Linked DNA regions of Homo sapiens. The protein of the gene in region 2 interacts with the protein of the main gene of each other region in a pairwise test. Each region holds a gene or a part of one and is shown on either strand. Other genes may lie near its edges. The genes, in order: ZBTB1, HEMGN and KAT6A.

The links.
Region 1: the proteins of HEMGN (region 2) and ZBTB1 interact in a two-hybrid assay, tested with the Homo sapiens proteins (one study listed by BioGRID).
Region 3: the proteins of HEMGN (region 2) and KAT6A interact in a two-hybrid assay, tested with the Homo sapiens proteins (one study listed by BioGRID).

The regions. Positions count from the first base shown.
Region 1 is NC_000014.9:64,519,159-64,527,819, reverse strand, and holds the end of ZBTB1 (zinc finger and BTB domain-containing protein 1), read right to left. Parts: intron 6,334-8,661; 5' UTR 6,316-6,333; coding exon 4,174-6,315; 3' UTR 2,869-4,173; downstream 1-2,868.
Region 2 is NC_000009.12:97,932,570-97,944,842, forward strand, and holds the start of HEMGN (hemogen), read right to left. Parts: upstream 5,604-12,273; 5' UTR 5,568-5,603; coding exon 5,489-5,567; intron 3,696-5,488; coding exon 3,602-3,695; intron 1-3,601. UniProt on the Homo sapiens protein: Regulates the proliferation and differentiation of hematopoietic cells. Overexpression block the TPA-induced megakaryocytic differentiation in the K562 cell model. May also prevent cell apoptosis through the activation of the nuclear factor-kappa B (NF-kB).
Region 3 is NC_000008.11:41,935,459-41,943,987, reverse strand, and holds part of KAT6A (histone acetyltransferase KAT6A), read left to right. Parts: intron 1-8; coding exon 9-240; intron 241-987; coding exon 988-1,195; coding exon of another isoform or gene 1,196-1,207; exon of another isoform or gene 1,208-1,939; intron 1,940-2,543; coding exon 2,544-3,146; intron 3,147-6,419; coding exon 6,420-6,732; intron 6,733-8,529. UniProt on the Homo sapiens protein: Histone acetyltransferase that acetylates lysine residues in histone H3 and histone H4 (in vitro). Component of the MOZ/MORF complex which has a histone H3 acetyltransferase activity. May act as a transcriptional coactivator for RUNX1 and RUNX2.

The DNA.
Region 1 (8,661 bases), on a different chromosome or scaffold from region 2:
TCAGCTACAGTAAAACATGATTTTTCGTGTGTATTATTATCTTTTTTTGAGATGGAGTCTTGCTCTGTTGCCCAGGCTGGAGTGCTGTGGCATGATCTCAGTTCACTGCAACCTCCACCTTCCAAGTTCAAGAGATTCTCCTGCCTTGGCCTCCCAAGTAGCTGGGATTACAGGTGCGCGCCACCACGCCTGGCTAATTTTTTTTTTTTGAGATGGAGTCTCGCTCTGTCACTCAGGCTGGAGCGCAGTGGTGTGATCTTGGCTCACTGCAACCTCCATCTCCTGGGTTCAAGCAATTCTCCTGCCTCAGCCTCCTAAGTAGCTGGGATTACAGGCTTGTGCCAACATGCCTGGCTAATTTTTTTGTATTTTTAGTAGAGATGGGGTTTCACCATGTTGGCCAGGCTGGTCTTGAACTCCTGACCTCGCAATCCACCCACCTCAGCCTCCCAAAGTGCTGGGATTACAGGCTTGAGCCACTGCGCCTGGCCTAACTTTTGTATTTTTAGTAGAGGTGGGGTTTTGCCATGTTGGCCAGGCTGGTCTCGAACTCTTGACCTCAGGTGATCCACCCACCTTGGCCTCCCAAGGTGCTGGTGCCCAGCCTCTACTTTTCCTTTTAATTAGTGTCCTGACTGCTCTAGCAAACTTTTTTTTTTTTTAAATTATTAGCCCCTCTGGGATCCTTTCTTCTAATTGAATTTTTGTCCATACTCAAACTGTTAGTTTGCCATATACCATTTAACCCATGTGCGTCATTTCTAATTTTTTTCAGAGATGGAGTCTCACTCTGTCACCCAGGCTGGAGTGTAATGGCATGATCATAGCTCACTGCTCCCTTGAACTCCTAGGCTCTATTGATCCTCCCACCTCAGCCTCCTGAGTAGCTGGGGACTACAGCTGCATGCCACCATGCCCTGCTAATTAAACAAATTTTTTTTTTAGAGATAGGGTCTTGTTATGTTGCCCAGGCTGGTCTGGAACTCCTGGACTCAAGCAATCCTCTTGCCTCAGCCTCCCGAGTAGCCGGAACTACAGATGCAAACCACCACACCTGGCCTCTGAATATTTTTACCTTAAAAACATGGGGGAGATGAAGACGCATTTCTGAGTCCTAATCTACTGCTGCCTTGGTTGTGCTCTATTAATTTCTGAGATTCTTAGTCCTGTTTACTAAGGAATCGTAGAACATGCAAGTTGTATTGTACTATAGTTGATGGCAAGCTTGCTAACCATTCCTCTGGGTTTTCTTGCTGTGTAGAATAAAAGGGCCAAAGCAAAAGAGTCTCATGGTGTTCATGAGACAGAAAGAGAATTTGATTCCACTATATATCTGTGTAGATTCTCCTTTCATTTTTAGATTTGGAACCTGAACACCTAAGTTACAAAGGCAGAAGATCTGGCAGCTTCAACACACTTGTTTCATTACCTTCACACCCAGGGAGGGCAAGAAGCAACAGCAAGGAATGACAGCTCTGCAGCTCTGCCCCAGGAGAGGAAGGAGATATTAGGGAACTGGGCTGGGGAAAAGTGCTGGATATTTTTCATTCTCCCTAATTTTAAAAAGCAAGTAGTCTTTAACTTTTTGCCTTGATAAGAATTGTACATTCCACTCTAGAGAAGCCTGTGCTTCCCTGTAGCTAGCTCCAAAACAAAAAGGTATGTTCTGTGTAACATGAAACTCAGAAAAAAAAATTGAGGTGGCCGGGCACGGTGGCTCATGCCTGTAATCCCAGCACTTTGGGAGGCTGAAGCCGGTGGATCACGAGGTCAGGAGTTCAACACCAGCCTGGCCAAGACGGTGAAACCCTGTCTCCACTAAAAATACAAAAATTAGCCGGGCGTGGTGGCATGCGCCTGTAATCCCAGCTACTGAGGAGGCTGAGGCAGACAACTGCTTGATTCTGGGAGGTGGAGGTTGCAGTGAGCCAAGATTGTACCACTGCACTCCAGCCTGGGCAAGAGTAAGACTCCGTCTCAAAAAAGAAAAATAAATAAATAAAATAAAAAATAAGTTGAGGTATGGCTTTCTAAAACTATAAACATCTCAGTCATGTAAAATTAGAGAGTAAAGTTTATATATTTGCTTGCTAATTGTTAGCTGTTAGTACATATCAAAAGACTAAATTAAGCCCCCTTCCTAATGGAATAGATAATCGTTTCTTCAAAAAGTGGTAGTATTTAGAAAAAGCCCTATTCTTTAACAATGGGGAAAGCCACTGCAAGAAAAATTTTGATGAGTCACGAAAAAAGTGATCTCAAATAAATTATGTCCATTATGATACTATATACTGTAGTTTGGAAACTTGGTTTATCTGATCTCTTTATACCACTCTCTGATGGTCTCTGGGTTAGAGAACTTTTATCTGGTTCCTATCAGTAATATACATACCACATTTCATTTTAAGTTGGATTTCAAATTTAATTACTTGATAAACTATTGTATCTAAGTAAGGGTAAGATGAATCACTTTTCCTGCTTTTGCTGTTAAATTTTTAATTTTTGTGTGTATTCTACCCGTCCCCTGCCTACTTCCCGTTATTTGAATTCTGCACTTGGTTCCTGTGCTGTTCCTATCCTTACTTAACACTTCAACATATCCCCACAAATCTGAGCTCACATGGTGCTCTAATGCTTTCAACTAAATCTGTACTCACCAGTATGTCTCTCAGTTCTTTTGGCAACTTGTTCTTTTATGTAAATTGTATACAAAATATGATTTGCATATTTTAAATATGATGTGAACAAAAAGAGCAATGCTATTAGTGTTCAGAATCACAAATTTATATTTTTAAAATTAGGAGTTAATTAAAATCCCTTTCATTATGAAAAGGGTACTACATTGCAAGTAATTCACATTAAAAGGCATTCTATTCAATAGATGTGTTTATTGGTGGGTCAGTTTTGCCAATGTTTTAATTCACATGTAATTATGTAGACCCTGTGTCAGCAACAACTAACAATACTACTACTTTAACTGAAAAAATGATAAACTGTTTCCATTGATATACTCTGTGATTATTTTATAATCCTCAAGTTTTATAGTCTTTTACAGAAAAAAATGATAATAAAATATGGCGATAAACTGCAATTTGCCACATTTCCTCCAAATCTTAGACAGTATAAAACACAAGACATTTTTTTGTGCACTCTACTTTTATAGAACAACCAGGTTTATAATTGATCTCTTTATTTTATTAGATTTATCAATATACATGGAAGCTTTCTCAAATCTCAAAGTTCCAGAAGTATGTATTGTAAAAAATCATCTTTTCCTTTAGAGGTCATATTCTTAGAGAGCTATTAAAGTCTATTTATAAACAAAAATAATTGATAAGCTAACACACTTTAGAAATCAGAATATTTTAAATTAAAATATTTTTAATGAATACAAGATATGTCTTTTTAATTAACTATCATAGTTAAATTTAATATCACAAAACAAAATGGCTTATCCCCACTAATTTTTCAAGTGAGGTAAAGCCACTGGAATTTACACTTAATATAAGTTTTAAATGTGATAATTAAATGATAATATTTTATCAATTATAGGAAATATTCATTTATAAAAATTTCCTCAGGTTCATCAATCTTTTTAGGCCAAGTTTGAGCCCATGTCAACCTTAAAGGTTAGATTCAGTGCACCTAACTTGCCTAATAAGCTTGTCAATTTAAGAATATGAATTTCATTAATAAGGGGGAATAAAGAGTAGTTAACTCACTAAAAGCAAACGGGATAGTTTCAAATAATTACTTAAGGAATTTTTAAAATTTAAACAGAAATGGCCAATGATTCTGGGTTTAAAATTTCACAGGATAACCTTAAAAAAAAAAAAACACATAGAAATAGTGAAGTCATCACCTTATTGATGAAAAACTAAAGTTTAATAGTCATTGAATGGGTAACAACCACTTGTAGTCTACATTTAAAAATTTTAATCATAGCTAAGAAAAACTAAAAACAAATAATTCTATTAAGAAACAACAAAAATGATAAACATTTAATACCTAAATGTAGATACTTAAAATCCTAAACAAAAATATTAAAGTTAAAAGGGCCTTGAAATTTGTTTCTAACAAATCATCTTATATAATCAATTCCTAAATAGCTCATATCCTTTGCTTTGGTGTTTTATCTGCTATCATCTAAACATTAGTACAGTAGAAAATCACTCAGGTTCTTTTCAAATGCTTGGCATTATAATGTGATCTCATATCTTTCCTCAAATTAAATTTTGCTCCACATATTCCACATGTATACAGATGAACATCCATGTGCTGCTCCAACTGTTCATTATTTGGGAATATCTGAAAGCAGACCTGGCATATAGTCTCACCAGCAGATAAATGAGAAATCATATGCCGTACATGGTCATGTTTTCTGAAGTTTCCTTGATCACAAATGGAACAGACATACCTGGCCATGCCTTTGTGCATATCATTGTGCAGTCGCAACTGACGCTCTCTTAAAAACTGCTTTCCACATGTTTGACAAACAAACTGTTTTTCCTTAGTATGAACAGTATAGTGTTCTCTTAAGTGACACCGCTGATAAAATCCTTTTCCACACAGATTACAAAAATGCTTTCGTCTGTGATCTCTTTCATTTTCTTCCATGATGGCACTCTTAAACATATCTTGATCTAAGCAGCTAGACATATGTTCAACCACTAGATTTTCAGTTTCAAAACGCTGGCCACAATTAGGACATCGAAAAGGGCAGGCAGAATGTTTAAATAACTGCTTTTTTTGGATACTGTTTATCTGGTAATGATTGTCCCTAAAATCATCCAGCATTTCAACAAACATATCTCTTATTTCGGACTGCTCATCAGGATTCTCTTCCAAGTCCATTTTCTCCTCAGTATTTCCTAACCCATTCATGGTCAGATCTTGGGGCTCGCCACATCGTTGAGCATGTTCCTGAAGCTGCCTACCCTTTACAAGTATTTGTCCACATTTACCACATGCACAGATATTTTCAATGTGTTTGGCTAAGTAATGAGATGACAGGTCCTCCTCGGTTATTGTAAGTCCACACAGCTCACAAGATGCATTTTCAGCATCCTCTTGTACTGGACTGCTGTTGTTAGGGGGCCTCATATTCTCTAAACCACCTCTTTCATCAGCACTTACTGACATTCGAGGTTTTAGAGTTTTCCTACCACTTTTTTTTATGCTGACATCTTCTTCAACATAGTATCTATAAAATGGCTCTTCAGGTTCATCTTCTAATTCATCATTGTCAGTGGATTCATTACAGTCTTTATCAGTAACTTTAATAATGTTAAAGTCTTTCAGTTCATCTGTAGGAATATCTTCTGGCTCCATCTTAATAATAATCCTTTTCCTCTCAGCAGCTCTGCTTTTCTCTTCGCTTGCTATTTCAGACTCCACTGTGCTACTTTTTCTGCTTCCAGTGGTTGAAGCTGAATCATCAGCAGCCTGGCTTGTGTCTCCTCTGTATTTGTCCGTCTGTGCAGAAAATGTTTTGGAAGAATCTTTTTCACCAAATTCAGCTTTGATGTTACTGTCTTTTCCATCTCTAATATCTACTATTCTATGGTAAGATCTTGTGTTTTGGTATAAATGTCTGTTAGTACAGGTTAGCACATGCTCATCTAATAATTTTTCACAGCTAAAGCCAAATCCACAGCTATCACAGGTAAAACTCCGCCCAAAGCGTCTTGACACACGTTCTTTTGGAGTAGATAATTTGGACACGGAACTTTTTTTACATACATCAAATAGTGGCTCAGGAAAATTACCTAATTGTAAAGACTCTTCATCAGCCTCTCTATTATGTGGTGTATTTACCGTTGAACTTGGCTCTGCACACCACCTGTTGGCTTCATTGCCATTTCGAGCCACAGTATCTTCATACATTCTTACCCCAAATATCATTTTGCTGTTCTGTTTGCTGGAAGCAGAAGAGGAACATTTTGAACTAGAACAATCTGCATCCTGGATGTCTTCTAAACAGTCAGGAACATTGTATAGCTGTAGGTAGTTCATTGCCACTTTAAACTGCTCAAAACTGGAGGGAGCTGTCATAATTTTTCCTAAATACATAAACTGCAAAATGAGATCAAAACATTCTGCACTAATTTTCATGTTGCTGAGATTCAGTTGTGCAGTACTATGCTGATGGTTCATGAAAAACATTCTAAAATAGGAGCTACAGGCAGCTAGAACTGCCTTGTGTGCTTGAAAGTAAATGTCATCAATTGCAATACAGCAGTCACAGAGAAAACCCCATTCTCTTTGGTTGTTTAGCTGCTGAAGGACATAGCTGCTGTGGCTGGGCTTTGCCATCTTCTGTTAATTAGAGACCTATGTAAAACAAAAATATTAAAGTCAAACAAGATATAGAAAAGCACTTGACAAAATTAACTTTTATCATGATTTGTGACTTGCATGACTGCTATTACAATCAAGAAATTAAGAGCTTTCCATTCTAATAAAACTCAATAATATATACTTGAATCATTTTTTAAATTTGAAGATGAAGACATCCAGCCATTTATTCAGGCTTTTCATATTGAACAAAGGCATCAAAAGCAAAAGACAGTTTTAGTTTCATTACAACTCTTGGGGGGAACATGTACACTAAATTTGAACAGAAAAAAAGACATTAATTTAAAAATACTTGAAGGAGGCCGAGTGCAGTGGCTCACGCCTGTAATCCTAACACTTTGGGAGACCGAGGCAGGAGGATTGCTTGAGCTCGGGAGTTTGAGACCAGCCTGGGCAATAGTGTGAGACCTCTTCTCTACAAAAAAGTTTAAAAAATTAACCAGGTGTGGTGGCATCACCTGTAGTCCCAGTTACTTGGGAGGCTAAAGTGGGTGGATCACTTGAGCCCGACAGGTAGAGGCTGTAGTGAGTTGCGTCACGCCACTGCACTCCAGTCTGGATGACAGAGCAAGACTCTGTCTCAAAAGAAAAAAAAAAAAAGAAAACAACTCTTGAAGGATATGAGTAATGAAAGTAAATAAAACAGCAACTTAAACTGAAAGTTAACAATTAGATTGTAAAGTATGAAAAACTTATTAAATGATTAATACTAAGGAGCTATTGCTCATTTTTTAAGTGTGAGAAAGGTATTTTGATTGTGTTAAAAAGAATCCTTATCTTTTGGATATATATACTTTAGTATTTACAGATGAAATGATACATCTGAGATATGCTTAAAAATAAATGGGGTGGGTGTGGGGAGCAATAGATGATACAAGATTGGCCATGTGTTGTTAAAATAATCTATTTTAAAAACCCTATTAAGCCTGGGCAACATAGCAAGATCTCGCCTTAAAAACAAAACAAAACAAAACAAAAAAACATTAGCCAGGCATGATGATGCACCTGCAGTCCCAACTACTCGGGAGACTGATGCAGGAGGATGGCTTGAGCCCAGGATTTTGAGGTTGTGGTGAGCCATGATCACGCCACTGTACTCTAGCTTGTGTGACAGAGTGAGACTCTATCCCAAAAATAAAAATTTAAAAAAACCTTATTAGGGCTGGGTGTGGTGGCTCACACCTGTAATCCCAGCACTTTGGGAGGCCGAGGCGGGCGGATCACGAGGTCAGGAGATCGAAACCATCCTGGCTAACACAGTGAAACCTTGTCTCTACTAAAAATACAAAAAAAATTAGCCAGGCGTGGTGGTGGGCGCCTGTATTCCCAGCTACTCAGGAGGCTGAGGCGGGAGACTGGCATGAACCTGGGAGGCGGAGCTTGCAGTGAGCCGAGATCGCACCACTGCACTCCAGCCTGGGCGACAGAGCGAGACTCCGTTTCAAAACAACAACAACAACAACAACAACAACAACCTTATTAGATTATATAGAAATGGCACCAAACAAGTTTGATCAGTGCCTTTGTCTTTTCTTGAATTATCAAAGAAGCAATAATTCTATAGAGTTAGAATGTGTCTCATGTTGCTCAACATGCATTTCAGGGTATAAAGAAGCAGTGGGTTTATTTGAGAAGGTATTTTATTTATCCTTAGAGTGTAAAGTTTTCTTCCTTTTTTTTTTTTTGAGGCAGGGTCTCGCTCTGTTACCTAGGCTGGAGTGCAGTGGCATGATCATAGCTAACTGCAGCCTCAATCTCCCATGCTCAAGCAATCCTCCCGCCACAGCATCCAGAGTAGCTGGGACTGTAGGCACATGCCACCACATTCAGTTTTTTTTTGTTTTTTTTTTTTTAATATTTTAGTAAAGACAAGGTCTTGCTATGTTGTCCAGGCTGGTCTTGAACTCCTGAGTTCAAGCGATCCTCCTGCCTCGGGCTTCCAAAGTGCTGGGATTGTGGGTGTGAGCCACTGCACCTGGCCTCTTCTATTTTTTTTTTTTTTTAATTGTTAAAAGAAAAAAGTAAGGCTGAGCGCGGTGGCTCATGCCTGTAATCCCAGCACTTTGGAAGGGTGAGGCTGAGGTCAGGAGTTCGAGACCAGCCTGGCCAACACGGTGAAAACCTGTCTCTACTAAAAATAAAAAAAGTTAGCCAGTCGTGATAGCGGGCGCCTGTAATCCCAGCTACTCGGGAGGCTGAGGCGGGAGAATCGCTTGAACCCAGAAGGCGGAGGTTGCAGGGAGCAGAGATTGTGCCACTACACTCCAGCCTGGGTGACAAGAACGAGACTCCATCTCAAAAAAA
Region 2 (12,273 bases):
CCGAGGCTGGTGGATCACGAGATCAGGAGTTCAAGACCAGCCTGGCCAACATAGTGAAACCCCGTCTCTACTAAAAATACAAAAATTAGCCAGGCATGGTGGTGCGCGTCTGTAATCCCAGCTACTTGGGAGGCTGAGGCAAGAGAATCGCTTGAACCCAGGAGATGGAGGTTGCAGTGAGCTGAGATTGTGCCACTGCACTCCAGCCTGGGTGACAGAATGAGACTCTGTCTCAAAAAAAAAAAAAAAAAGGAAATCTAAAGATGATGGTTATGGCACCTCAGCATTTTGAACTATTACTACAAGTAACCAAGGTGACAAGATAAATCATAAAATTCTGATAAATTTTTTGAAAAAGATATTAATAGTAATCCAAGTTCCTTAGGAAACACATATTTTTTCCTAGATATTAAATCCTAAAGAAGTTGTTATTTAAATCTCTGTATGAGGAGATCTGAGTAATGTAATAGTCCATGTCTTCCCAGGTAGTTTTTCAAAAAATGCAAAAAATACCTATGTGGCCTAAACTTTAGTCTGTACTCTCTCATGGTTGTGGGCAAGTCACTTAACCTCTACATGCCTTGGTTTCCTTGTAAGTGAAATGAGGTAAATAATATCGGCCCAATTTCATGTGGTGGTTATAAGAATTATATATAATAACTTACATGAATGAATTATTCAAATATAAATTAGGACTCATATGAATACAGGAAACACTTATAGTGCTTGTATATGTCAGGCACCGTTTAAATAATTTAGTTATTTTGTTATCTCATATAATCTTCACATCAGTCTATGAAGTAGGTAGTTATTATTTTCATTTTGCAAATGACAAAACTGAAACACAGAGATGTTGAGTAACTTGCCCAACACTTGTATTTGATAATCAAGCCATATACATTATCCACCTGCAGGCTGCACAGATAAGGAGCCGTGCCTGGATTGCAGGTCTAGAAACCCTGAGTATGAGTTTACTCAGGGGTAGTGAAGTAATACACACAGACTAAATGCAAAGAGACTAGTATATAAACCAGAGTGCCAATCTATTCGTTTATAATGAGAATTATTTATTTTCCATAATATTTCCAAGGGCTCTGGCTACCAAGTAGGGGAGCCAGGCTACGAATCTAGTCATTCTGGCTTTAACAGCCAGGCTCATAACCATGCACTCTGCTGCCTCTCTCTGAAACTAATAAAGTTTCACTGTATGGTGTGTTGTAGTGAGAAAAGAGGGCACAGGCCTTAGCATTATAGAGATGTATCACCAGAGCAAGTCCAGCCAGCTGCCAAGAGGCTCACTAAGGTGTTATCCATTTGAGTGAATACCCTCAGCCCAGCAAGCCCAGAAACCTGATTCTGTTAGCACACTGAGACTACCTCCATTTATCAGGGGCAGAGCTCATCAAGCAGATTTAAGGAGACTGACATATAAACCTAAAGACCAATTTTTAAATGAACAGACATACAAAGTCACATAGTAGAAAATACCTGGACTGGCTGGGCACAGTGGCTCACGCCTGTAATCCCAGCACTTTGGGAGGCCAAGGTGGGCGAATCACTTGAAGCCAGGAGTTCCAGACCAGCCTGGCCATCATGGCGAAACCCCGTCTCTACTAAAAAATACAAAAACTAGCTGGGCGTGGTGGCCAGTGCCTGTATTCCCAGCTACTTGGGAGCTGAGGCAGGAGAGTCACTTGAACCTGGGAGGCAGAGGTTGCAGTGAGCCGAGATTGTGCCACTGCACTCCAGCCTGGGCAGCAGAGTGAGACTCTGTCTCAAAACGAGTGAATGAATGAATGAATGAGAGAAAGAGAAAAAAGAAAAGGAGAGGAGAGGGGAGGAGAGAGGAGGGGATGGGGGAGAGGAGGGGGAGGGGAGGGGAGGGGGGAGGGGAGGGGAGGAGAATACCTGGGTTCTGGGCTCCCAAACAAATGCACCGTCTCTGTAGATAAGTACTTGGGAAGCCAAGTAATGATTGGAAGATTGCTTAGTGGTATGGAATTTGGGAGCTAATTGGATAATCTTCAATAGACCTGCCACAGGACCCTAATACAAATATTTCTACTGTAAAATGATACACGTGTTCCTAAAAAAACCTCACTTTCTGCAAAATCATCCTCTATAAAGTTACAGTGGTTATGGAGGTGGGGCAAATAGGCTTGGGACAAATGATTCAAAACCCTTGCAACATTTTAACACTAACTAAAACAATAATTGGTACCAGGAGAGAGAACTTGGATGGTCTAGACAAGCAGTTTACTGTGGCTGGAGGCTGCCTCAGGGGATAGTAAATGCAAATATAGTGTAATTGCAGGCTTGAAGCTGCTGAGACCTGAGCTCTGAGCCAGCGGGGTTGCCGTTAAGTTGGGCACAGGAGGGAAGTGCAAGCTGCCACTTGATGGAGAGCTGCGCAAGGCTGGTGTTGTGCCTCTCTGAGGAGGGAACCCTGGATGCTGGCTGAAAAGAATCCTGCTTATACAACAGCCAAGCTGAAGGCTTTTTCTTTCCAGCTGAAAGCTTTAATTCTCTTCCCACTATTCTGCTTTCTTCTGACTAGGAAAAAATCATGAACCAACACAACCCCCACATTATACTGACATCATTCTCCTATTTATCAATCGTATGTGAACTTGGTGTTATAGAAACATCTGTTGTAGCAGAACAGACAGTGCTCAGTCCACAGCGGGGTTTGGGGATTGGAAAATGCCCTTTCTTAGGAAGAGTGCTTTGCTTAAATTAGTGGTTCTCAACTGGGGATGATTTTGCCTGTCTTCCCCCAACCCCACCCCAGAAGACTTTTGACAATGTTTGGAGACATTTTGTTGTCACAGCTGGGGTGGAAGGTGCTGTTGGCATCTAGAGGCCAGAAAATGCTACAAAACATCTGCAGTGCACAAGCCAGCCCCCCACACAACAGGAAGTTCTCCTGCCCCCAGTGTCAGCAGTGCCAAGGTGGAGACACTTTGGCTTAGATGGATGCTGCACTTTTGGCTCTTTGGGCTCCCCTTCCAAGCAAGCAAGTCCCCAGTTTCCACAATCATATTTGAAATGGATGCAATTAGATGTCGCCTAATTTACAGTCATGTTATTGTACCCCCTTCCTGCATTTACATACAGGTGAACATACAGGTTATCTAAACTCTTTGTCACTCATTTACAGCGAATGTTTTGGCTTATTCCATGGAGAGTTAATCACACTCATTCAGTAAAGATTTAGCTAATAGAAAGCTTGGCGAACAATCTTGGAGGCTTCTTCAATGATGTTTCCCACTCCCAACAGGATGCTTCTATGTTTATATTACCTAGGAGCTAAACGCCAGGCTTCTCTACAATATAATTCGGTTGCTCAGTGCTTTAATTAAAAGAGACCAGGGAAAAAATTCTGTTCCCACCATTTTACCAGCTGTGTGTGTGACTTTAGGCAAGAGGTGTAACTCACTGGAGGCTTAGTCTCTGTTTTTCTGTAAAATAGGGATAACCATGTCTGATTTACAGGATTGTTGGAAAGATAAAATACAGTGTGTAAAGTGCACAGCACTACTTTATGCATAACATCCTCAATAAATATATTAGTTCCCTTTCCCTTGTGATGCTACCATACCCAAATAGCCATTGTGATGTTTCCTTTTCATGCACTTCAGCTTTTCTTTTTCTAAGTAGTTCTCTGTTTCTCAAACTCCAGGTTCCAATGACTTCTGTAATAAAATGAAAGTGATTAGAAAAAGTGATGAACTGTGGTGTCTATCAGCAAAAGTCCTGTAGCCAAGTGGCAGAGTCTCTGTTCTAGGTTTTTCTCCTAGCTTTTTGAGGACAAGGACTGCATCTCATTTATCCTTGTATCTCCAGAGAAAGCCTGGAAGCAGACATTCAGCAAATGTTTTTGAATGAAAAGGTCAGAGACCTACTCCTACATAGTATTTGTACATAAGTGTGCTACCAACCTATTAATTTCTTCAAAGTAATTTTATATATTGTACAAATAATGAAAAAAGTAGCCATATTTTGCTGTCTTTAACATGATAACTTGTTTTCATTTTATTCCTCACTTCTATCCAGTCTTTATATTACACAAAGTTGTAAGAATAGCATACCACAATTTTAATCTTTTTATTAAGCTAGCGTTATATTAGAACTATTTTCCATGACGTAGTCTTCATAATGATAATTTTAATGACAATGTGATACATAGTCTAGTTGATGTACTCTCATTTACCCAATCATTCCTCTTGGATTGAGCATTTAGATTGTTGCTAGTTATCTTTGCCTTGTATATCAAATTATAATAAGCATATTCATTGCATATAGCTTTTCTTTGGTATTTTTTCCTTAGAACGGTGTTTTTTCAAGTTCTTTGGAAAATTAAGGGTTTGATCAAAAAAGTTTCTGCTGCTGTCTAAGGTTGAGAAAAATTGATGAGTCTTTGATGCAGAGCTTCCTAGAGCCTGTGAAGTGATACAAATCCACACTGGGACCTCTAAAGAATAGAGCATGCCCCTTGAACCATGGTGCCTCTTGTTCTTGGGATAAGGGTTCTTAATAGGAAAAATTATATCTTTATTTTTACCAACCTCTAATTAAAATTGACAGTTCCTTCAATTATGAATGTAGATAACAAACCACAGTAGTTTTGGCAGTATATGACTTTTTTTTCAACTTTTATTTTAAGTTCAGGGGTTCATGTGCAGGATATGCAGGTTTGTTACATAGGTATACATGTGCCATGGTGGTTTGCTGTGCAGATCATCCCATCACCTAGGTATTAAGCCCAGCATCTATTATCTATTCTTCCTGATGCTCTCCCTCCCCCTCAGCATATGACTTGGTCCCTATAAAGAAATCACATATTTTTTTATCACATTATAGTTGTTGCAGATACCTTAAAATATCACCTACTGGCTATGACTTATTTGACTTGATACTATTATTAGACCCACCACTGGATATTGTAATCTATAAATAATCATATATATTACTATATAATAATTTTTTATTTTGATATTTGTATCTTAATGTAATTATTCCCTTTCTAGTCTTATATATTTAATTTTATGCCTTTAAAAATTTTATTCAAAGAAGGAGTCTCTGGGTTCATCAGAATGCCAAAGAGATCCATGTAGCAAAAAAAATTTAAAACAATGTCTTAAGGTATCTCAAGGCCTAAGTTTCCACAAAACATTTTGAGAAATGTTGCTTTAGGATAGATCCAAGGACTGAGATTAGTGAGTCAAAAGAATAAGCAGTATTATAGCTCTCACCACTTATTGCCAGATCTCTTTCCAAACGTTAGACCAAATTTGTGCTGCCATAGAAATGTATGAATCCACTTGTTTTACCACAGCCATCGAATGAAATTATTGGATGAACTAGTCTCATTAGCTTTCATTTATTTCCTTTTTTTTTTTTTTTGGCCAGATCCATTGAAAAGAGAAAATTATCATACCCCGAATTCTTCTCAACAGCCACCAGCTCTTAAGGTATTTTTCATTACCTGGAGAATGGTTCTCTTCTTGATGAGGGTCAGGTGTCTGATGGTGCTTCAAATGAGATTGGTCCTTTCCCAAATCCATCTTGCTGCAATACCTTCCTGCTATTTTGGTCTGACTTCCACAAGCAGCCTAGATGCTTTTTTAAAATATCAAAAACATCTAACACTTAAAAAAAAAAACCACACACACAAGTTTGCCTGTCACTTGACTTCCCGCCTAAAAGTTTTATCTGGTTGGACCACAACTGCAGGCTAATTCTACTATCTTTATCACACTGCACAGGTGTGAGTAGGGGAAATGGCTGGTGCTAGCAACCCCTAGCATAGGTTGCTATTTATACAGGGAAACTCTCTGACCACAGCCTGGCATGGCACAGCCTCTAGTCAGCACTCTTTTGGTTCTATCTGCCAGGAAGTGTCTGGATCCGATGTTCCTTTTTACAGATGGAGGTAGCCTAGTGTAGAAAGAACACAATCTAGGCCCCAACCAGCTCAGTGGCCCAGGGCAAGTCACCTCCCTTTTCTATGACTCTCTGCATTTGCAAAATGGGTAAATAATTCCTGTCTTGCCTACTTCATACGGTTCTTGTGAAAGTGAAAATAATAGATATAAAAGTTTCTAGAAAGTGTGATATATATTAATCTTACATGGTTTCCTGTATGTAGCTTTTTTCACCTTAATCTGTTGCAAAATAATGTACAGTTTTGCTGTGTATGCTGTTAGACTTAGTTAAGAAATAGACATAAAGAACCAAATTAGAATTTCACAGCAATTTTGTACCCTTTTTGGCTCACCAAATCATTCGCAAGTGACTCAAGATAACTAGTGAAATCCATTGTTACTCATATAGGGGAAGGTGAAAAATTACTTCTTAATGAAAATATCACCACATTATATCCCAGAAATTAAGTTGAAATAATCAAAGGAACCATCCTATCTCCAAGCAGTAACCCCATTTGTGAAGACAAGGAGCCACAGACTACTATGGTTCAACTAAAGAAGAAACCCTGAGCACCTCCTGATACAGGAAGCCAGTCTGGGAGATGCAGGATTAATATATGTGTTCTGGATTCAGATTGAATTGAAGTGAGTTTGAATTCCAGTGTTGACATTCCCTAATTCAGTGACCTGAGGCAGGTTAGATAGCCTTGGAGTCAATTTACCTATCTATAACATGGGGACAATATTGGTATCTACCTCAGAAAGTTACTGGGATGATTAAGTCCAGTAATCCATATGAGGCATTTTATGTGTGCCTAGCATATTGAACTTGGTCAGTAAATGTTAGCTACCAATAAAAATACAGTAACCAGATTTTGGTAAAGCAAGTCATAGTTTAAATGCACTAAAGAGAGAATCTGAAGAGGATTCTTTATAAAGAAAGACCTTTGTAATGTGAATAGATACCCACTACTTCCATGGAGTCTTAAGGCATTAGAACTGGAAGAGCCCAAAATCATCTAGTCCCTGCCTATTTTGTATACAAAGAAACTGAGAACCGAGGAGGAGAGTTACCTATACTTAGTATTTTATTACTTATTGCCAGCAGCATCTCTTACAGATTAGGAGATGGGTCATCATTTTGTGTGCTTGATCTTTCCTGGGTATAAAAATGTGTGTATCATGTAAATATATTAGAGAAACAAGCTGTCAAACACACTAAAGGGTATCGAGAATGATATAACAAACACCCAAGTATCTGCCACTAAAATTTAACTTGGTTTTTAATTACTAAACCCTAATATTTAGCTTTACCTCTCTCAGTTCCCCAGTCCTTCTCTTAAGTAAATCTCTGTATCTAAAAGTTCAGGTAACTTCAGGGAGCCCCTGCTCAAAGGAATCCTGCACGGAACAGCAGGCATTATTTGCTTGAAAATTTTGGATTTTCAGATATGGGGTTTAAATAACTCAAACTAACTTTAAAAATTACAAAATAGTGTTTTTTTAAATATTGGTCCCTTTAGTTGATATGTTTTAATTCTTATTAGTTAGGTTGTTTCTTACATTAGGATAGTTTAATAAAATAACATTATAGAATCCCTCTGGGACACCTTCAGTGGATGCAGAGGTACTTCTTGAATAAAATTGTCCTTACTAAGAGCTTGTAACACCCAGTTCAACAATTCAGCAAATTTTACTTAATGCCCCCTCTTGTGCTGTAGAGACGGATGGTGCAGTTCCTGAGCCCTGTGCCCTGTAGGCTCATAGAGGAGAAAGTGTGTACATCTGTATTGCAAGGAAATAATAGATTCTTTATATCCTGCTACAACCTACCTAAGTCAATTCCACCCCTGCCCCATGTTCCCTGTATCTAGAAGCAGAGTGTGGAGGGACTGTAAGAGGGTGGGGTTTCAAGTTAACAGTAAATTGAAGGTAATATTGGGTGGAGGAGGCCAGTGGAGAGACACTTTGGAGCAAACTAGATTGGAAGTCAGGCAAGGTGTCTCTGGCATGATAAACAGGCCAGAGTGGGAATTTGAGACAGAAGTAGCCTACAGTAAGTTTACAAGCCACAGTTCATGGTCCCTTCTCTCTGTAGAAAATTCTAGTTAGAAATTTAGTTAGAATTCTCTAACTAGAATTTCCAGAATGTGTGTTAGGCATTAAAGTCCACATATTTTTTGACAAATGCTGCCTTGTTCTAGAGTTATTTGCATATATACATAAACCTCTCTCTAGGCCACAAACCCTTAGAGAGCAGATACAGCTCCTGATTCACTTTTCTGTCTCCACAGTATGATCCGGTGGGAGGCTTGGCTCACTGTAGTCCCCATAATCGCCCTCACTCCCTGCTTCATGAACATGCAGCCTGGGACAGTAATTTATACACTCAGGGCTTGATGCTGCTGTGACTTAATAATAGCAATATCATCATCTGTGTCAGAGCTCTTTCTACTGTCATTCATTCTGTGCCCAGCGCAGTCCTATGTGTTAGAGATAGAGTAATTGAACAGCAAAGTCCCTGCCTTTATGAAACCTACATTTTAATGGGGAGAGATAAACAATAAGGAAATAAATAAAATATATAATGTGTCAGATGGTGATAAGTGCTTTGGAGAAAACTGAGCTGGGCATAATAGGATAAGAAAAAGGAGGTTGATGGTGGCTGCTATTTTAAATAGTGTGGTCAGAGAAGGCTTGACTGATAGGGTGACAGGTGAACAGAACTGATGGAGGTGAGAGGCCAGATATGCCATGCTGATATCTGGGAGGGCATTCCAGGTATAGGGGCACCAGCAAATGGCCCAAGGAGGGGAGTGTTAAGGAGGTGGGATCAGAGAAGAAGCCTATTATTGCCCCTTGTAGGATTTCTACTCTGAGTGAGATGGGTAGTCATGGCATGGTTTTGGACAGAGGAGTGATACGATCTGACTTACATGTTTAAAGAATTATTCTGGCTACTATGTGGGACAGGGGCAGAGGAAGCAAGAAGAACAATCAGAATGGTATTGCAATGATCCAGATGAGAGATAATTAAGGTTTGGATGATGGCAGTGGTGAAGCCATGGTCAGATTCTGGATTAACTTATAACTTGAATATGGGGTGAGACATAAAGAATCAAGATAAAGATTTGTTGTGAACAACTGGAAGGATGGAGTTAGCATTCACAGATCAGGAAGATTGGGAGAAGCAGGCTTGGAGGAGATGATCAAGAGTTTCATTTTGGATGTGCTAACAGGTTAGGGAGAAAACAGCAAAGGAGCAGCCAGTGAGGCAGAGGAAAACTGGAAAAATATAGTGTCTCGGAAGCCAAGAGGAAAGACTGTTTCAAGGAGGAGAGACTAATCCACTGTGTCAAACTTTGCTAAAGTAGAGGAAGGATTGAGAATTGTCCTAACAATTGATTTCCTAACAATTCAATTCATTTAAATTAATTATAGATTATGGAGGTGAAGTAACTTGGCCAAGGGCATGCAGATGAAACCAGCTATATAATTTTTGGGGGACCCATGGCAAAATGAAGACAGAGGGCTTCTCCTTCAAAAATTGCTAAGAATTTCAAGATGGCTATAGCAGAAAATTAAACCTAGCAAGTGTTTCACAAGTGTTTCATTGGATCCTTGAAGCAGACTTATAACATAGCTATTATTGTCCTCATTTTTCTGATGAAGAAACTGGTGCTCAGTGCATTGAGTGATATAACTAAGATCACAGAGTGAGACTGGTAGTTCGCACCAGAAGCTGGGCCTTCAGCCTCCAATTCCCTCTAATTCCTTCTTTTTTTTTTTTTTTTTTTTGTTTTTGAGATGGGGTCTCACTCTGTTGCCCAGGCTGGAGTGCAGTGGCACAATCACAGTTCACTGCAGCCTCTACCTCCCTGGGCTCAGGTGATCCTCCCACCTCAGCCTCCCAAGTAGCTGGGACTACAGGCATACACCACCATGCCTGGCTAATTTTTTGTATTTTTTTTGTAGAGATAGGGTTTTGACACATTGCCCAGGCTGGTCTTGAATTCCTGGGCTCAAGCAATACCCCTGCCTTTGCGTGCCAAAGTGCTAGGATTACAGGCATGAGCTACCAAGCCCAGCCTGGCCCTCTTCCTACTAGAACAAACTAGGTATTGAGGGAGAGAGTTGCTTTCCTGCTTCCTGACCATCTGGAGCAGGTGTAAGTATTGAGAATTTGGTCATACATTTCAGAGGCCTGACTGAACTGGGCAAATGAAGGAGGGAGGAAACACATTGCTGAAACTTCTGCCCTAGGGCCCTTTAAGATGGGGGTGAAAAGGGAGCACAGGAAAAAATAGCTCAGGCCATGTACTGGATACTGTTTAGTCAAAAACAAGACGGGGTAAAAGTGCCCCAAAGCTAACGCCATTTAAGGCTATATTGATAAAAATTATAGCGCCTCCAAAACCAGAGAGATGAGAGCCCTGGTACACTTTGGTTTGTCATGCCATAGTCAGAGAGCCATACTGTGAAGACCATATTATATGAAAGCATACACTGAAAAGAATGAGGGGTACAGGGCTCTATCATTTTCCTGGCTGGGTAACTTGGGGAAAATCACTTAATTCTTTCTGATCCTCAGTTTCTTCCCTTGTAAAATAGAGAAAGGTAATACCTCATGGGGATTCTGTGAGGATAAAAGAGATCATGGGAGCTTTTTATAAAATGAAAAACACGGCAGATATAAGTCCCATCAACCCGGACAGTGTTGATAGTGATATTAGAGTGTTCTAATGATGCACCTGGGCAATTTCCTAAAATACATTTGGGTGGAAAAGTCATGGAAGGGAACACAATGGACACTTGTTTTTCTTAGCATTCCTTCCTTGCTGACATACTTTTTCAAAGCTTTTAAATACTTTTCAAAGACTGGATCAAGCTTTGCTTTCCTAAGTGGAGAAGGAGAAGGACAGTTTCTTGTTCCCCTCTCTCTCAGTCTGTTGATGCATGATAAATGACTTCTGTCTGCTAAAACAGATGCTGCTGTACACATATAGATAACATGTTCTATAACTTAGAATGGCTGTAGCCTGCCTTTCAATCTAGTTTGTCCCAAAGTCCCTCCTCTGGAATCCTCCCACAAATGCTCCTTCTGTTAGAGTATAGACAAACATCTCTGAATAAACACTGATGAGTGGTCATTTATCTGGGGAAGAGCAATTCTGGTCCCACCTTGAGCCTCCCCCTTATCCCTGTCCTTTCATTTCTGAACTTCTTGAACTAGTAATATATTCTCAGTGTCTCCTTTTCCCCCTACACCATTTCATTGCTTTGCATATGTAATCTAGCTTTTTCTTTCACTCATTCTCTCATAAATCATCAATGATTTCCTAATGGCCAAATCCAGTGGTCCATTCTCAGTTCTTCTTTTTTGACCTCTCTGCAGCTTATAATTCCTCTGAGTACTCCTATCCTCCATGAAATTTGCTCCACTTTTGGCCTCTCTGATGGTGTGGAGCCTCTCTGATGGTGTGGTGTTCTCACCTCTCTCTCCCTTCTCCTCCTCCTTGCTCACAGGCTTCTCTTTCACTCCCCTAGGTATGGGAGGTGTTTTCCAAGAGTCCCTGATCCTTTTGAGTTAATACTCTTACCCAAAGACAGTTGATCCAACTATATACTTTTAGCTACTACCTCTTTGCAGATGTCTTCTAAATAAATATGTCTGAGTTCTAAGATCACATTTCCAAGTGTTTCTTGGTTATCACTTATTAGCTGGATGTCCCACTGCACCTCAAACTTAGCATAACTAAAAGCAAATATATGTTCCCCCCTAAAACTAGGCTCCCTGTGCTTTATTTCTGTTAGAATAGTAGTACCATGCCTGGCCATCTAGTTCTTAGCCTTCAGAAGTCTCTTTGACTCTGCCTCTTCACTTTGTCTCTCACATTCAGCTAGATACAGTTCTGCCAGTTCTTTCTTCCCAGTGTCCCACATGCTCATTCCATCTTTTCCTGTCCTATACCACCATCCCAGAGAGGGGCCTCAACTTCTCATTGGAAGCATTGGAAAAGCTCCCTAAGTGGCTATCTGCTTTCATCTGCCCTCACCCTCCCAAGTCCATCCTGCACAAACATCCAGAATATTCCTGCTACAGCTGGCTCTGAACCAGTCACTTCCATGTTTAGAATCCTGTAAAGCCTCAGTATTGCCTGCAGAATAAAGACTAAATTTCCCAGTCTGGCATTTAAGTCTAACTTCCCAATGTTCTTTCCCATTACTTTCCTGGAACTACCCAATGTTTCCATTAAATAGTACCACTTGCCTTCCCTGTTTTGCCGTGAATCTTTCTAACACCCACAGTACCTATCTTCATAACTTCTGGTTGTTCAGTCTTCTG
Region 3 (8,529 bases), on a different chromosome or scaffold from region 2:
TTCTTTAGGTTATTTGTTATCAAAGCGTGAAGGCCAAGCAGGGTCTCCAGAGAAACCGTTATCTGATCTGGGTCGTCTTTCCTACATGGCATATTGGAAAAGTGTAATATTGGAGTGCCTTTATCACCAAAATGACAAGCAGATCAGCATTAAGAAGTTAAGCAAGTTGACTGGAATCTGCCCTCAAGACATCACTTCCACACTCCACCACCTACGAATGCTGGACTTCCGTAGTGACCAGTGAGTATCACATCTTTTTGTATACCTTTGAAAGATAATTAGGTTGAAGTTTTTTGGATCAGCCAGTCAGATTATTGATGAAAGGGCATTAACTAATATAAATGATATACTTGGTGATAATGAGATATCATTTTCCTTTCTAGGATATTTTATTTGATTGACTATATATATGGTCTATATATAGTCTATATATATGCTTTTTAAACTGAATTGTTTTTCTGATACCCCTAATTTTTGGACCTAAGCTACTGAATCTTTCATCTTCTAGTATTGGGAGCTCTTTCACAATACAAGAAGTAACCACTCTAGAAACAGTCATTAAATAAAATGCCCATGTTAAATTTTCATATAAATGGCACAAAGTAAATATAGATTGAAAGGAAGAACAGACAGTTCACCCTTCACTAAAGTGGTCAGAAAAAGGTCACAAAGAAAGGAGGCATTTGAGCCAAATAAATGGAGAATAGGAAAGAGAGTGCAGAAGAGCAGCAGAACTTCTGGAGCGGGACGTGTGAGACAGCAGGCAGTGAAAACAGCCCGCGGCCACGGTAGAGAGCGAAGCATTTGTCCTGCTTCACACTCCTGGCCGTCTCATGTGGTGGCACATTTCTGCATTCCATCGTCCCAGGCAGGCTATCTTTGCAGCACCTATCATCTTACATGCTTCACCAGGGGTCTCATCTCCACATTCATTTTTATGTACACCTTGTACATTGTTGATTGCTATAAACTTTTCTCTGGTTCCAGATTTGTGATTATCCGCCGGGAAAAACTTATCCAGGATCACATGGCAAAGCTTCAGCTGAATTTGCGACCTGTAGATGTAGATCCAGAATGTTTGCGCTGGACTCCAGTCATAGTGTCCAACTCTGTGGTCTCAGAGGAGGAAGAAGAGGAGGCTGAGGAAGGAGAAAACGAAGAGCCACAGTGCCAGGAAAGAGAATTAGAGATCAGTGTAAGGGCATGAATAGTCTCTATTTTTGATGACAGAAGATATATTTTTGATTTCATGAGTATTTATAATAATGTATTATGATCATCTTTCACAGAAAAGTAAATTCACATTAGAATGTCAAGAGTTTTATTTCAGTGGTAGAGATTTCAAGAAGACTGGACCTGGTTTACTTAAGTATTTTTAAGCCTTGGACAATTAGGAGGAGACCATCAAATTTCTTATAATGTGTTACTTGTGAGAAAAATATTTGTTACCAGGGTGCCAAGAAGCAGCTCAGTTTTAAGCTGGATAGTAGTTGAGAAATCTGAATTGAATCCAAATCTGACAGTTTTTAAAAATGAAATGGAGGTTGGGTGTGGTGTTTCATGCCTGTAATCTCAGCGCTTTAGGAGGCCCAGGCGGGAGGATTGCTTGAGATTAGGAGTTCAGGACAACCAGGGAAATATAGTGAGACCCCATCTCTACAAAAAAAACCCAACAACAAAATGAAATGGAGATACATTTTCCTTAAATAGAATATTAAGTAACTATTGTAAACTTGTGTATGTTTTCTGATGGGGCACCAAAACATCCTGTGGACACACAGATCTCTTTAGCCGTTAAAGGGTTGCTGGTGAACTGTAGTGCATGTGTCATTGTCAGTATTTTTCTTCATGTGATGCATACTTTTATAGCTCTTTTTTTTAAGCAGTGCTTCATCCTTTCAACACCGGTATCCTCCTTTAATAAACATAAAAAATCCCATGCCTCTCTTTAGTGCAGTTTAATTTTTCAAAATGAAATTATTCAGAATAAAAGTAAATTTAAAAACTACATAAACTTTCTTTCATATTTCTCAAATGCCTCCTTCCTCTTGCCCATGTCTCAAGATCCTGTCTCCTCCACCCTGTTTACAAATTTTTATTTCTGAGAAATTTTATTAAACAATCTCATTTAACATTTAAAAGAACAATAGTATTCACTTTGCTTATTGAGGGTGGTACTGCAGAAAGATTCAGAACATAGGCTCTGGAGTCAGACTGCCAGGCTTTCTATCCCAGCATCTTCTCTTGCTCTTGCGTGACCTGGGGCAGATTACTTAAATTTTTTTCTACCCCACATGCCTCATTTGTAAAGTGGAGTTGTAGTGGTAATACTTCATATGATTGTTGGGGAGATTAAATAAATAATGCATATACAGAATTTAAAGCAGTGCTGAAACAGGAAATATCCATGTTAAATAACTGATCATTTTCTTTTTAAAGCTCAGTTTCCTTTTCTTCTCTCAATACTTAAAAGGTCAGAATAGGTAAATGTAAGCAAACAAGACTGAAAAATTAACCAGCATTGTTTTATTTTCTAAAATCAGGTGGGAAAGTCTGTGTCTCATGAGAACAAAGAACAAGATTCTTATTCAGTAGAAAGTGAAAAGAAACCAGAAGTTATGGCTCCAGTCAGTTCTACACGTTTGAGCAAACAAGTCCTTCCTCATGATAGTCTTCCTGCAAATAGCCAGCCATCTCGGAGGGGCCGCTGGGGGAGGAAGAACAGAAAAACCCAGGAACGTTTTGGTGATAAAGATTCTAAACTGCTCTTGGAAGAGACGTCTTCAGCTCCTCAGGAACAATATGGAGAATGTGGGGAGAAATCAGAAGCCACCCAGGAACAATACACTGAAAGTGAAGAACAGCTGGTGGCTTCTGAGGAGCAGCCAAGCCAGGACGGGAAACCTGACCTTCCCAAGAGAAGACTCAGTGAGGGGGTTGAGCCCTGGCGAGGACAGCTCAAGAAAAGCCCTGAGGCTCTGAAGTGCAGATTAACAGAAGGAAGTGAGAGGCTGCCCCGTCGCTACAGTGAGGGTGACAGGGCTGTCCTCAGGGGCTTCAGTGAGAGCAGCGAGGAGGAGGAGGAGCCGGAAAGCCCTCGGTCAAGCTCGCCACCAATTCTCACAAAGCCCACGCTGAAGCGAAAGGTAACGCATTTCTTTCCAGGTCTTCTCTTCCTCCAATTCCAGTTTATCTTACACCTTCTCGTTTTAGCTTACAGTTCTGAAAGAGTATAAGTTAGAAATTCCTAGTGCATTGCTTTATAAACCTTAAGCCTCTGTATATTGTAGCTCAAGATCTTCCCAGTGAACATTTGAGATGTGTGTGTGTGTTTGACTTCTTTGATTCATGGGAATTCACTTAGAAATCATAAGCTTATTTAAGGGCTTCACCTCCTGGGATGCAAACAAACTTTTTTTTAGCTTACTGGTTTGATGTTCAAATCATGACTTTTAGGGGCTTAAAGCCCTAAAATATCTTTAAAAGATATTTTTAAAGTATGTACAGATTAGAAGTGTTTATATTAGAAAAGGAGGCCAAAATATTACATAATTAATTGGAAAGTGAACATAGTGCTGCCCTATATTTTGGGGTACTCAGAGTACAGTAGCTCATCTTGGGTGCTATTGTTTTCTCTCTACTCTCCCCACTTCTCACACATCCCTCCAGTGGTTTAACGTGGTCTCTCTTGCTTTAAAAATATTTTCTAAACTATATTCCATCATAATGATAGCCAATTAGTTATTAAATAATGTACAATGATGATAATGAATTCTGTTAAGCCGTTTACCAGAAACATCCCAGGCTATGGAGTGGATTTTAAGCATTGCCAGGAGGCAGCCAGACTGAAGCGAGGCTGCTCCCTGGAAGAGCCACTCAGCCAGCTTCCAGCCAAAGCAGCACAATCGTTCCTTTCCTTACAGGGTCTTAAAAAGCAAGACAGGATCTTTTGTTTTGTTTTGTTTTGTTTTAAGAATAATATCTTCAGAGCAGTTTTACATTTACAGAATTAATGCAAAGAAAGTACAGAGAGTTCTCGCATACCCCAGCCAGTTTCCTCTATTATTAATCCCTTGCGTTGGTGTGGTACATCTATCACAGTTACTGAACCAGTGTAGATACATCAGTAACTAGAGTTCATACTTTATTCAGATTTCCATAGTTTTCCCTAACGTCCTTTTTCTGTTCCAGGATCCCACCCAGCATATCGCATTACATTTAGTAGTCATGTGTCTTTAGGTTCCTCTTGGCTGTGGTAGTTTCTCAGAATTTCCTTAGTTTCGATGGCCTTCATAGTTTTGAGAATGACTGGTCAGGTATTTTGTAGATGATCCCTCATGATATTAGAATGGGGTAATATATTCTTGAGAGGAAGACCATAGAGGTAAAGTGCCATTCTCATCACATAATTAAAGGGTACCTGTTGGCATATATCTATCAGTATGTATAGGGAAGCTGGGCATAGTGGTCACTCTTGTAATCCTAGCTACTTGGGAGGCTGAGGCGGGAGGATCACTTGAGCTGGAGGCTGTAGTGCACAATGATTGTACCTGTAAATAGCCACTGTAGTCCAACCTGCGTGACATAGCAAGACTCCGTCTGTAAAAATAAAAAGAAGCAAGTATCAAATATAAGGGTATTATCAATTTGATTTTTCCCTATTGAAGTTAACTTTGATGACCTGGCTTAAGATATTGTTTGTCAGGTTTCTACTTTTCTTTTCCCTTTACTGGAAGGAAGTCACTGTGCATAGCCACACTTAAGATTTCTACCCCCTCAGAGTGGAGGCTCAGCATAAATTATTTGAATTTCTGCTTGGGAGATTTGTCCTTTCTCCCTCATCTGTTTATTTATCCAAGCATTTATTTATATCATTATTGGCCCAGATATTTACGTGATACTTCACTTTATAATCCAATACTACTGCTTTTTAAAATTTGTTGCTCAGATTGTTCCAGTTTTGACCATTAGAAGCTCCTTCTTTTAGTTTCCCTCTTGGGCTGCTGCTGCTTTTTTTTTTTTTTTTTTTTTTTCCTTCCCCAGATGGGGTCTTACTCTGTCACCTAGGCTGGAGTGCAGCGGCATGATCTCAGCTCACTGCAACCTCCACCTCCTGGGATGCAAGCAACGCTCCCACCTCAGCCTCTTGAATAACTTGGACTACAGGCATGTTCCATCACGCCTGGCTAATTTTTTGTACTTTTGATAGAGACAGGGTTTCGCTATGTTGCTCAGGCTGGTCTTGAACTCCTGAGCTTGGGCGGTCCACCTGCCTTGGCCTCCAAGGTGCTGGGATTACAGGTGTGAGCCACCGCGCCTGGCCTCCTGTGTTTAACATATATACTGTTGTTGTCATTGTGGGGTCTTTTTGTTTGTTTTTAAGCATTTCCTTTCTGGCACTACAAGATGCTTCAAGTTCATCTTGTATATTTCATGCCCTTGTCCTAGAATCAGCCTTTTCTCCAAGGACCAGGGCCATTTTTAATCTAATTTGAAAATTACATTCTCGATTGGGACTATTAAGTTTGAAGTAGAGAAAAATTGAACATTGACTAACTGCTGTTCATTGCATGATCATGAAGAATAGATCTTTGTCATCCTAGCACTTGTATTGCCAATTTATGAAGTAAAACAAATCATGTTAAAAAAAGAAAAAGAACAGGCAGTAAGCTCACATGCAAAGTAATTTTGAAGTTAATGAATAAATGCTTTGACTGGATGTGTGAACTTAAGCAAGTCCTATACCCTCTCTGACATCTATAGAATGAAGGGATTGGATTAGATAATCTCTGGGGCATCATCTCTTATTTTGTGATATTAGTTGTATAATTTTAGCTATTTGGTCAGTCCAGTGCAAAGTTGTGCTCAGTGTGCCCAAATTTCAGTAACAGATTTATTTTACTTTTGAAATATTTCACTAACACTGAGTAAATACATTTCAGCCCCATATTTCTACATTCCACAGCTTTTTATGAGTAGTTCATGAAAATGGCATACAACTTTACTGATAGTTCTGCAAACCTTCACAGTAGTGCTATAAGACAAAGTGTTTTTATTTCTCTTTTGCTCTTAAGTTGGAAAAGTTAAGGGATTAGCCTCTGGGTCAGTTCAGTATTAAAACAGGGCAACTCTCTAGGGTGCTAAATTTAACTGAACTATTAAGAGAATTATAATGTCTGCTATTTGGAGATGGCTGCCTATTCTTTTACAAAGTTGTGTTCAATTGCCTAATACCTTTGTATTTATAATAAGTGTATTATCTTACTATAGTATTTTGAAATAATATTCAAAATATTTTTTGGCAAACAACATCCTCATTTTATATGTGCTAATTCTATTTGGTTTTAAAACTGTTTTCGTATTATTAATAGAAAAGATAGTGTTCATAACTGTAAATACTTGCTTTCTCTATTAAACAGAAACCATTTCTCCACCGAAGGAGGAGAGTCCGAAAGCGCAAACACCACAATAGCAGTGTAGTCACAGAAACTATTTCTGAGACCACTGAAGTGTTAGATGAACCTTTTGAAGATTCTGACTCCGAGAGGCCAATGCCAAGATTAGAACCCACGTTTGAGATCGATGAAGAAGAGGAGGAAGAGGATGAAAATGAACTTTTCCCTAGAGAATACTTCCGTCGTTTGTCTTCGCAGGATGTACTCAGGTGTCAGTCCTCTTCTAAGAGGAAGTCTAAAGATGAAGAAGAAGATGAAGAGTCAGATGATGCTGATGGTATGTTTTACAGAACTCACTTACTGTGGTTTATTGTCTTCAGATATATAGCAGTAGCAGTGACAGACCCTTCAGTAAAAAGGCTGAAAAATGAACACAACCCACTAAGCAAGAAAAGGAACGTTTGGCAATCTCTAAAAAGTTGTATCAAGTATATCCATCTTGATTTTTAAATGTGTTTTCCCTTCAACTCAGAACCTCTATTAATTTGCCTCTGCAGAAAATATCTTACTATTAGGCAACTGTTCTTTTTTGCCCAATCCTTTCTAAGCCTTTATCAGAATCTTTAGTTAATGGGAGAGTTGGACTTAGCATCAGGAAGATGTAATAACCCTTCACTAGAATGTGCATTCTCTAGACTTAGTCTGTTTTGCTCATTGCTGTATGCTGAGTGCTTAAGCCCGGCGCTCAGTAAGTAGTGTTAAATGAGTGAATGCTAAGAAGACAATTCTCCAGAAAGAGCAGATTCATGTAAATTGGAACTTGTGTCACATCTGTTCAGGAGTCTTTCCTGAATTGTATCTCTAATGTGTCTTACCCAACTAGTAGTAAATTTCTCACAAATGGTAACAATAACTCAAAATAAATTTTATAGTATAGATACAAATCCAACTATTTACTTTTAAAGCAGCCTAGTTGTCATTTCTTCTCTAGAGACACTGAAACTAGGTCTCATATATATGAGCCAGGTCAGAAACAAGTCTTTTTCACCCTAGCCTAAAGTTTTGCCAGTGTCTCATGCTGCCTGCATCTGCAGTGTGTTTATCTCGCATGGGCTCAGAATGAGCATTTTTACTTTGTTGGGCAAATTTGAAGAAATCTACTTGTCCAGTCTTGGTACATAAACCTTTAGCTTTTATGCATTAACTGGTTGAACTTTTTAATTCTTTTAAAAATTCAGTCAGTTTCAAGTCTAGAAGATAAACTTACATTTTCTCCATTCTCATATTTTCTATATAACAAATACTTTTTTATTTTTTATTTTTTATTTTTTTGAGATGGAGTCTCCCTCTGTCACCCAGGTGGGAGTGCAGTGGCACAGTCTCAGCTCACTGCAACCTCCACCTCCGGGTTCAAGCGATTCTCGTGCCTCAGCATCCCAAGTAGTTGGGATTATAGGTGCACGCCACCATGCCTGGCTAATTTTTGTATTTTTAGTAGAGACGGGGTTTCACCATGTTGGCCAGGCTGGTCTCAAACTCCTGACCTCAAGTGATCCACCCGCCTTGGACTCCCAAAGTGCTGGGATTACAGGTGTGAGCCACCCTGCCTGGCCAACAAATACTTTTAATATAGTGATAAGATGAATGTGTTCTTTGCTCTATCATGAATGATTCTACAGAGTTTAACTTGCTATGTTTTGAAATAACATAACTAGGAAACTAAAAATTTATTTTGTAAATTTAGCACTTTATATTCTGTCTTAGATCATTGTACACTAAAATAGTACCCCTGATTAAGTTCCCATGGACTTAGATTTTTGCTGATGCAGCCATTTCCTTTGTTGACTTTCAAGTTACTACTACTAACTGTGCCTTTTTAGCCGTGCCCCCACTGCATCATGTTCTTGTCTTGGTATTCTTATTCTTTAAAAATTAATAGGCAATGTGAGTGTACTTAATGCCACTGAACTTAACACTTATAAATGGTTAAAATTTTAAGTTTTATGTTACGTATAGTTTACCATAGTTTTTTTAAAATGCTAATAATATAAAATTTATTTCTAATGAATGTAATTGGTGCTTTAATTTTTTCTTGTTTGTCTAAGTCTAAATGTCAGTTTTTGTCTAGGACTAA